3 separate regions of the Homo sapiens genome follow, and regions 2 and 3 are each linked to region 1. Evidence: fine-mapped expression QTL. A gene starts in region 1. Each other region holds a variant in brackets. All regions are shown on one strand. Distances are from middle to middle. Region 1 holds the start of EXOC4 (exocyst complex component 4). Region 2 overlaps EXOC4 (exocyst complex component 4). Region 3 overlaps EXOC4 (exocyst complex component 4).

Evidence for each region. PIP is the estimated chance that this variant, and not a neighbour inherited with it, causes the effect.
Region 2: its variant is fine-mapped to the expression of EXOC4 in testis (GTEx, PIP 0.96).
Region 3: its variant is fine-mapped to the expression of EXOC4 in tibial artery (GTEx, PIP 0.97).

Annotation. Positions count from the first base shown.
Region 1 is chr7:133,251,727-133,254,529 of GRCh38, reverse strand. It overlaps EXOC4 (exocyst complex component 4), which reads right to left and starts at 1,452. Exons shown (of 18, transcript NM_021807.4): 1 at 1,343-1,452. The coding sequence starts at 1,428. RefSeq lists enhancers at 1,366-1,425, 1,636-1,685.
Region 2 is chr7:134,058,231-134,060,730 of GRCh38, reverse strand. The region is part of intron 17 of EXOC4 (exocyst complex component 4); the gene reads right to left. Among named protein-coding and RNA genes, the nearest start is that of LRGUK, 68 kb to the left of the region's middle. The variant G/C (reference allele first, on the strand shown) is at 1,342.
Region 3 is chr7:134,063,766-134,066,562 of GRCh38, reverse strand. EXOC4 (exocyst complex component 4) reads right to left here. Exons shown (of 18, transcript NM_021807.4): 18 at 802-2,272. The coding sequence ends at 2,035. Among named protein-coding and RNA genes, the nearest start is that of LRGUK, 62 kb to the left of the region's middle. The variant C/T (reference allele first, on the strand shown) is at 1,352.

The DNA.
Region 1 (2,803 bases):
AAGTTCAAAAAAGGATCCAAATAATGTCCTGGTATTCTAATTCCACAGGAAATTCAGATGGGAAACAACAAACATTCTTATTGGAATTTTAGTATCATGAGATACATCTACACTACCTGCGTATTGTCACAGCGAGAATGTGGGCCTATAGATTCACAATACAACAGCACTTCCTCTGTATGGCCTACCAAGTATATTAAGCATTTCCACACAGAGATGTTTTTCTCTTAAGCCCAAAAGAAAATTAAAGTAATGATTTAATAGGCCATAATCTTAAAGCCTCCTAAATAAGACCCATAAGATGTGTCTTTGTCAGTGAGTGGTAAGCTGTTCTAATGGTTTGATACATGCATTCATTGAAGTGCTTAGTACCTACCAGATAATGTTGGGCCCTGGGTTTTGAAAAGATGATCAATACATTCCAGAAAACTTGCAAGAACTCAAACAAAAGTTTAGTATAGGTGGGGAAAAATAGAGTGTTTGTTTATGAAAAATAAACGAGTTGAAATTCAAATGCCAACAACGTAAAAAACGTGCCATAATAAATTTTATTTAGATTGGTTTTAGTCAGTACCTGCATCATATCCAAGATTCTTGAAAGGGTTCCCCCATCCTCAATATATTTCGCTTTTTTAAAAAAAAGCTCCTAAAAGATCCACCGCTCCCACTCCACCCCCACCCTAATCTTCTGGGAGGTGCAGAGGGGCAGTGCATGGAGGATAATTTGAAATTGGTTTGGTTCTGTTTTTTAAGGAATGGACCAGAATGCGGAGGCAGGGCAAAAAATTGAAAACCGATGTGTGCCTTCAAACCCAGTCCTCCTACCAGCTCACTGCAGATTCTTGTATTTGTGGCTGTGGCCACGCACAGGTGGTTGAAAGTATCCAGAGTGTGAAAACACAAATCTGCAACTCGTGACAGGAATCTCCGGACTCCAAGGCCTTACACCCCAAAGTCCAGGAAACAAGACGCCTTTCTCAGTGAGTGCTGCTACAGGCAAACAATAAACAAGCATTTTAGGAATCAATAAACACACCTTTACACCTGGTTTTCTCTACCAAACCCAAATAGCGTGCTTTGGGGTCCCGAGACTGTAATAGAAGGTGCTGCCCCTAAAGAAAAGACTGAGGCGGGGCTCCTCTCTCTATAGCTAACCCCAGAAAAAAAAGGTGGAGGGGGAATTGCTGGGGCCCTGGGGAGGGGTTAGAGCCCTGGGGAGGGGCTGCGGGAGGCAAGGAGGAAAGGGGAGAGCAGGGTGGGACCCAGCTAACCCTTCTCCCTTCCAAAGCGGAGGTCGAGCCGCTGCCCCCAGTCCCCAGACCCTGCCTCCTGCCTCCCTCACCTGATCACAGAGATGAGCAGCCCCGAGGGGTCTTTGCTTTTGCTGACTGTGCTTCTGTATTTCCCACCAGCTGCTTCTGCCGCCATCTTGGACGCGGGGAGAGCCGCTAGGCTCCAAGGAAGCCAAGGGTGCGTAAATTCTGTATTTGACCCCGCAGGAGTCTCCACCAATGGGTGAAGAGAATTCCAGAGGCGCGGAAGTGGAAAATCCAATCACTGAAGTGAGGAGGCGGGACTAAGGGAGCAAGTTTTGAGGCCACGACGCGCGTGTTCTCTCTAAGCACTCTGGGAGTCGTAGTTTTCCTTCTCCGTCTCCTGGGCGCGCAGGAAAGCTAAACCAGCTGCAACTTCCTAAGTCTTGTAATGAGTGTCTTCATTTATCTTTATTCTGACTTCCAGCTTTTTTCAGTTTCCTTGCTTTTAGAATTTTGTCAGGCTTTAAATCAAATTTATCTGATGATGCCAAAATGTGTTAGGGTTTGTATTTAAATGAAAGAGGGGTTCTCTGCCGGATGTCTATGTGCGAAGTTTTTGCCTTAAGTGCAAGTGATTTTTTAAAAAATCCAATAAAATACGAAAATGAATATAAGCAGAAATGCTTTTCTTTAGTATTCTGTAAAACTAATGTTTCTACATTAGGTTTATGTGGAGTTCAATTTTTCCCAATGTTCCTATATTTCCAGATAGTTCTAAAACCACACGTACAGGAATAAATGAATATTGATGAAGAAAAGACAGTATAAGCTAAAAACAAACAGACCACACTGCAGATTCCTTTTTTTTTTTTTTCAAGCTAAATGAAATACTTAGTAGTAATGCACATTTGTGTTAATACTTTTACCGGTAAGTTTTTAGTATTTCCTGCATTTGGTTCCGTTGGCTTAGTCATTAATTCATAAGACCAAATGAACAAAACAAAACAAAAAAGACCAGAATGTGCGTGGAAAGTGGTTAGACTGAGGAACAAGAATAATAATAATTTAAAAGTAAGGAAGGAGGTGGCCTGCTCAGTAGCAATAAAGATTGAAGAACTTAAAGGAATAGAAAGCAAACTAACTCAGAGGTCATGGAGTTGTGAGCAGCAAGCTCAGAACACATCAATTACTTTTATTAAATAGACATCGAGCTGGTAGAAGTTCACATTTTTAAAAATTAGTTGAAGATAACACACACACACACACACACACGATAACTTAAAAGTATTCATAACCTTTGGCCCAATAATTCCAGTTCTAGGGACTTTGTTCCTAAAGAAATATAGAGTATTGACATTTTTTAAATAACACAGAAGAATTAAATAAATTATGTAACATTCAAATGAGGAAATAACATATAGCTTCTGGAAATCATAATTTTAATGGCTTTTAAAGAAAATAAGATTTTTGGGCCAAGTGTGATGGCTCACACCTGTAATCCCAACACTTTTTGAGAGGCAGAGCCGAGCAGACCACTTGAGGCCAGG
Region 2 (2,500 bases), 810 kb before region 1:
GTTTCACCTGGAGGTGGGGAAAGGGTGCTACCAGGTGTCCTAAAGAGAAAATAGAAAAATGCCCCAAACTATACCATTAGAATGAGCTTCCATGATAAACACTGTCAGACTGAAATGAAATCATGTCACCCAATAGGGATAAATAATTTATCAGCACTTATTGAGGCCCCAGGAAATTGAAAGCTTGGTCTTCATCATCGAGCATTAAAATAGCAGCCGTGGCTTCCAGGGCAACACATTTTCCATTTGATGACACTTTGCTGGGGCTGCCTGGATGGGATCAGTGAATGCACATTTGATTGAGACATTTTCTGGCTCATGGTTTGTAGCCCTTCACAGACTCTTCATAGCCTACAATATTCAGCAGTCAATTGCTAGATGTACACCAAATATCTTATTCTGGAGACCAAAGAGTTTCAAGTCACCCTGCTGGATGGAACATTCTGGAAGGAGATGTGCACCTTGCTGTGGCTTCTCCTACCCTTTGCTGTGTGCCTTTTTGCAGCAGTTCCCAAAGTATTATAAGCAGATAGGTGAGGGAGTAGAGTGACAGAGAAGAGGAGGTGTGACTTCACAGACTGGTCTCATGTGCAGAGTCTAGAACATAACAATGTTTATGCTTTGTTCTGGTGCAAACAGATCATTTTCTCTTATCTTCCTCATGTTTGCTTTATCAACAGACTGTTCTCTGTGGCTTTTTCTTTTGTGCTTTATTTTAATGGTATTGCACTGCGACTCTTTCTCCCCCATACATTCTGTCTGAAAACATTTCTACCAGGAAGGAAATACAGGGTATTTTGGAAAGGTGGGCAGATCTTTTTAAAGTTTTAAAACAAAATTTTATCTTCCTCTGATTGGAAAGTTAATACATATGCCATATAGAATATATGGGCCATACAGAAAGATTTCTCATAATTTCATCATAAAGATAAACCACAGTTTGGCATATTTTCTTGTAGTTCGCCCCCACCACATGTAGTGTTCTAGCCAATTTCTTTCTTATAGTTGAAATATTTAGGTTGAAACACAATTGGATACTTCAATTGTTTCCAATTATAAAGACTTACTTTCTCATGGATAGATTTCTAAAAACAGAATTAGTTAAAAGATAAGTATATTATTTAGGACACTTGACAATGCTGCCAAGTTGCTTTCTAAAAAAGCTCTATCAATTTATCCTCCTATCAACAACATATGGGCAGCATCTAACTCACATTCTTTTGATTTGCATGAGGTGGAACAATTTTTCATCTACTTATTTGTTTTTAATGTATGTAGGTATGCGTGTATGTATAAATGAATTGTTGATATCTTTTTATCTTTGAGTATTAGTGCTTTTCT[G/C]ACTTCTCTTTAAGAGCTTTTCATAAATTTTCATAGACAAGAGGCCAGGGAGTTTTCTCATCCCTGGTTCTACCTCCCAAGTTGGCATACTCAGTGCAAAAATTAGTACTGCATCTCTGAAAGTGATTAGAAACAGTTTCAGTTCCCTTCTTTGCAAATTGAGGGAAGAAATACTCACTAACATAAACTATTCCCGCCCATGGCAACTCTTGTTCCTGTACTTGTAGGCGTTCCATAAACTTTGCCTGTAGGGGTGACAGCAAGGCCCTGACTGGGGAACTGTCCAAGGTCTCTGAGGAAAGCTTTGCCTTTTGCCTTCCTTTACTTGGTAGAATTCAGAGTCCTAGATCCCGGAATGGAAACTGTGTTTTAAAATATACAGCTACGTCTCATGCTGGGTTTTGAAATCTGTCTTGATTGTAGAATATTAATAATAATGTCTAGCTTTTAGGTGCATTTCAATCCTTTTAAATAGGAACTACAATTATCTACGTTATACATATGAGAAAATTGAGATCTACAGAGTATTAGTGATTTGTCTAAGGCCTCAAAATGAAAGACTTTTGAGCCCTGTATTTACTCTAAAACCACCTTAATACAAAAATATTTGAAACTATAAAAAGCAAAAGAACTAACTGAAAAGAATATTTTTATCGCTGACTCATTTGAGTCTTGAGTACACAAATATGAATTAAATAAAATTCCCATACTCAGCTCTTTCTTTGTAATGCAATGAGCCAGTATTGTGGTGATTCAAATTCGTTTGTACAAACTTTGCAGTTATATCTGAACAACACTGGATTTGATCTGGGAATTCAGTGCTCTAAACCAAGTAATGCAGTCATGTTGTAAATTTAACACTTAATTTGGGAGTTTACAAGCAAGAGTTTTTGGCTTTTTCATTTTGTCACCTCTTTTTATTTCTTCCCTTTTTGCCCCTTCAAGTTGGTAATGGATGAAGTAACCTTTCTTTCCAAAAGTTGACTGTCCCTCTGATTCAGTACTTTTTTGGGGAAGGGAGATAATTATTTTCATTGTAAAGACTTTCTCTTGTAGTCCTTCCCAAGATAAAGCTCTAGTATTAATGTCAACAAGTGAATTCTGTGCTGAATCTGACTTCTGAAATACAAATTTGAGAGGGAGAAAAATTGAGCTGAAT
Region 3 (2,797 bases), 810 kb before region 1:
CAAAGAAACTTGGATGTCCTAAATGTCTTGGAAGAGTCCCACAGTCCCTTTCCTGTGCAGAATTGCCATTTTCAGTCCCGTCATTGTAAGCAAAGCAGAGATTTCACTTTCCTAAATGTTGCCCCTGAAACAGCTCATCTGCCATTTTTTGGTTGGTTCTCAGGGCTCTTGACATTCTGCTCAATCCAAACCCATGTTTCTTTTTTAGCGGAGCTTTCCACTACTTCCAAGAAAATTAGTCTGAGCACTCTCAGTCTCACCCTGGCTCTGCTGCCATCACTGTCACCACTCCGGGTTCTCCGCCTGGAGTGGACAGGAAGAAAAAGGAAAGGTACAGAATCAATGCTGGGGGTCACGGCCATGAAGCAGCAGCTTAGGCAACCCTAATCTCCTCTCATCCCCCCTTCTTCCACTCCTGCTTCTAGGGTAGACTATTTCTCATGATATCGTTTAGGGCAGTATGTTTTTCCACAGTTGTCTCCTACAGAGATTCAACTTCTTCCCAGTCAGGCCCTTGGAGCCAGACAGATTGACTACATTCTTTCCCACCAGAATCCCCTGGAACCTCCAGCTGCCCACTGAATCCCCTTCCCGGCAGCCCCACTGCCTGACCTGATTCTGACCCAGCCCTGAGTTTGAGCTGTTGGGATTTTTGGCTCCAGTCCAGTTCCCACACTCTTAGATAATAAGGGTGTCCTCTTCATCTATCCATTTGCCCTTGTGTGTGGTAGCATGGAGCACATATTAGGCTTCTGGGGAATATTTGCTGAATAAAGAACACAAGAAAAATAACATGAAACATTTAAGCTTCTCAAAACACTTTTTAATTCTCCATTTTTCCCATCAAGACCAAAGTTGTACAAACAGGTACAAAATCCCCCACCTTCAGGGTGTGAGGCATCACTGTGTGTGGTCAAAGTCCCATCTCCTCCCCTTTCCCTTTCCACGAGTTTTCAAGATGTGGCCCAGTCAGTGCATTGCTGCCTTCTATGACCTATGAACCATGGGCAGCAAGAGGACTGGTGACCGGGGGACATGGTGAGGTCCAGTGTGCCAGGAACATGGTAAGTGCCCACATTGCGGGGGAGGGAACAATTCAGAGACAGGCTCAGCTGGAGGCCGCACAGAGGAGAAATGTCACTCTGTCCCATCTTCCCTGCATTCAGCTGAGCTCAGACCAAGTGAGCACCTAAGAATCATTTACCCCCAAAGGATGTTTCAAGTGAGATGCAATGTTCTCTAACCATTATTCTCTCAGAAATTAGGGGTGGCGGGGCGGGAATCAAGCAGATGTTTGAATTGCCTTTCATTCCTCCATAGTTGTCTAATTGTCTGGCTCTTGGTTTTTATA[C/T]AGCAGAAATAAAACAAAATGGCAATAAACCAACCTACAACCTGTGTACAAGATACAGCATACAAAACTGTCCCAGGGACTGGGATCAAAAGACTTCTATTCCTAGCCCTAAATTAGAGGTTCTGTTTTGGTTAGGGAAGTTTGTTGTAAACAGCAGCTGAGAAGCCATTTATTTGATTTTGGCAATAGAGACAGACAGCAATGCACATACACTTATTTCATTGAACTGTAAACGGATAAGGTCAGGAGAGGAAAAACCCTACTGTTTATGTAATAGAACCCTACTAAATGGTTTTGGAAGGGACTAAAAGTTAGGTAGCAGCCTACTTTCCTACTTTCCAAGGCTGGAATTATATATATATTGAGTAATAAATCAAATATTAGTAATCCATCCACTTGTTTTTCAGAGTCCAACAATTTGATACCACCTTCCTCCCTATCCCACCCTAGTCCCGTTAGATTTGACTGCATTAAAGTAGTTGTTCAACCAAAACACTCTGTACTGTCGCCTTCCTTTAGCATTTATATGAAAAGCCAAAACCAGAGAGAAAGAATCCTTACACCTCCTCTCCACTAAAGTATCACTGTAGAGAAAACTAAGCTCAGAATATACTCAATAACATACCAAGGAAAAAAGTGAGTGTGACTGAGGGGACCCCCGTCACCAACCGCAGTACGCCCTGCTAAACGGTAGTTATCTTCTTGTCCTTGGTGGCTTGCTTGATGGCAGCCTGCTCGCAGATGATCTCTTTGAGCCTCTGCAGCCTCGTGTTCTGGGTGGTCAGTTCCCCCACCCCAGTCTGGCTGCGGTGCAGCAGGGTCAGAGCGTGGATGTACTCCAGCTCCGTGTACTTCACACCCTGGTCCACCACCAGGTTCAGGAGCTCGTCAGCTGTGTTGTAAAGCATCTCGTAGTACTGCCTGAGAAAGCAAGAGAGAACACTGCTCACTGGCTCCCCACTGGTAACGTCGTCTCGAGGGGACAAATACGCTGTCTATACATTGATTCCTCTACTTACTTCATAACGATTGATCAGCAGGCAGTGTTCTAGGCCCCACCAACAGAATAAAGAACAGGACAACCATAAGCTCTGTCCTTTGGAGCTCATGGGAGCTCTCTTCAGGAGAAGTCTAAGTGAGGACCCAGGGAGGCCGCATACCTTTCTGTGGCTCAGCTCATTCTACATTTTTTTGCTAATTTTGCATTTACCTTGGGAGAAAGGAAAGAAAAGTAGGGGTATAGCCTGAAGAAGGAGAGAAGGCATTGTTAACAGGTTTTGTCTCATTCAATCCCTCATTCATTCATTATTCATTGGAGGTTTTGTAAAATACTGTACATGGTTTTCTGCTCCATAAAGTGGGTTAATAATAGTACCTACCTCTTGGGGTTATTGAAATAGTTGAATTAATTAATACGTATAAAGCACTCAGAATGGTGGTGCTTCA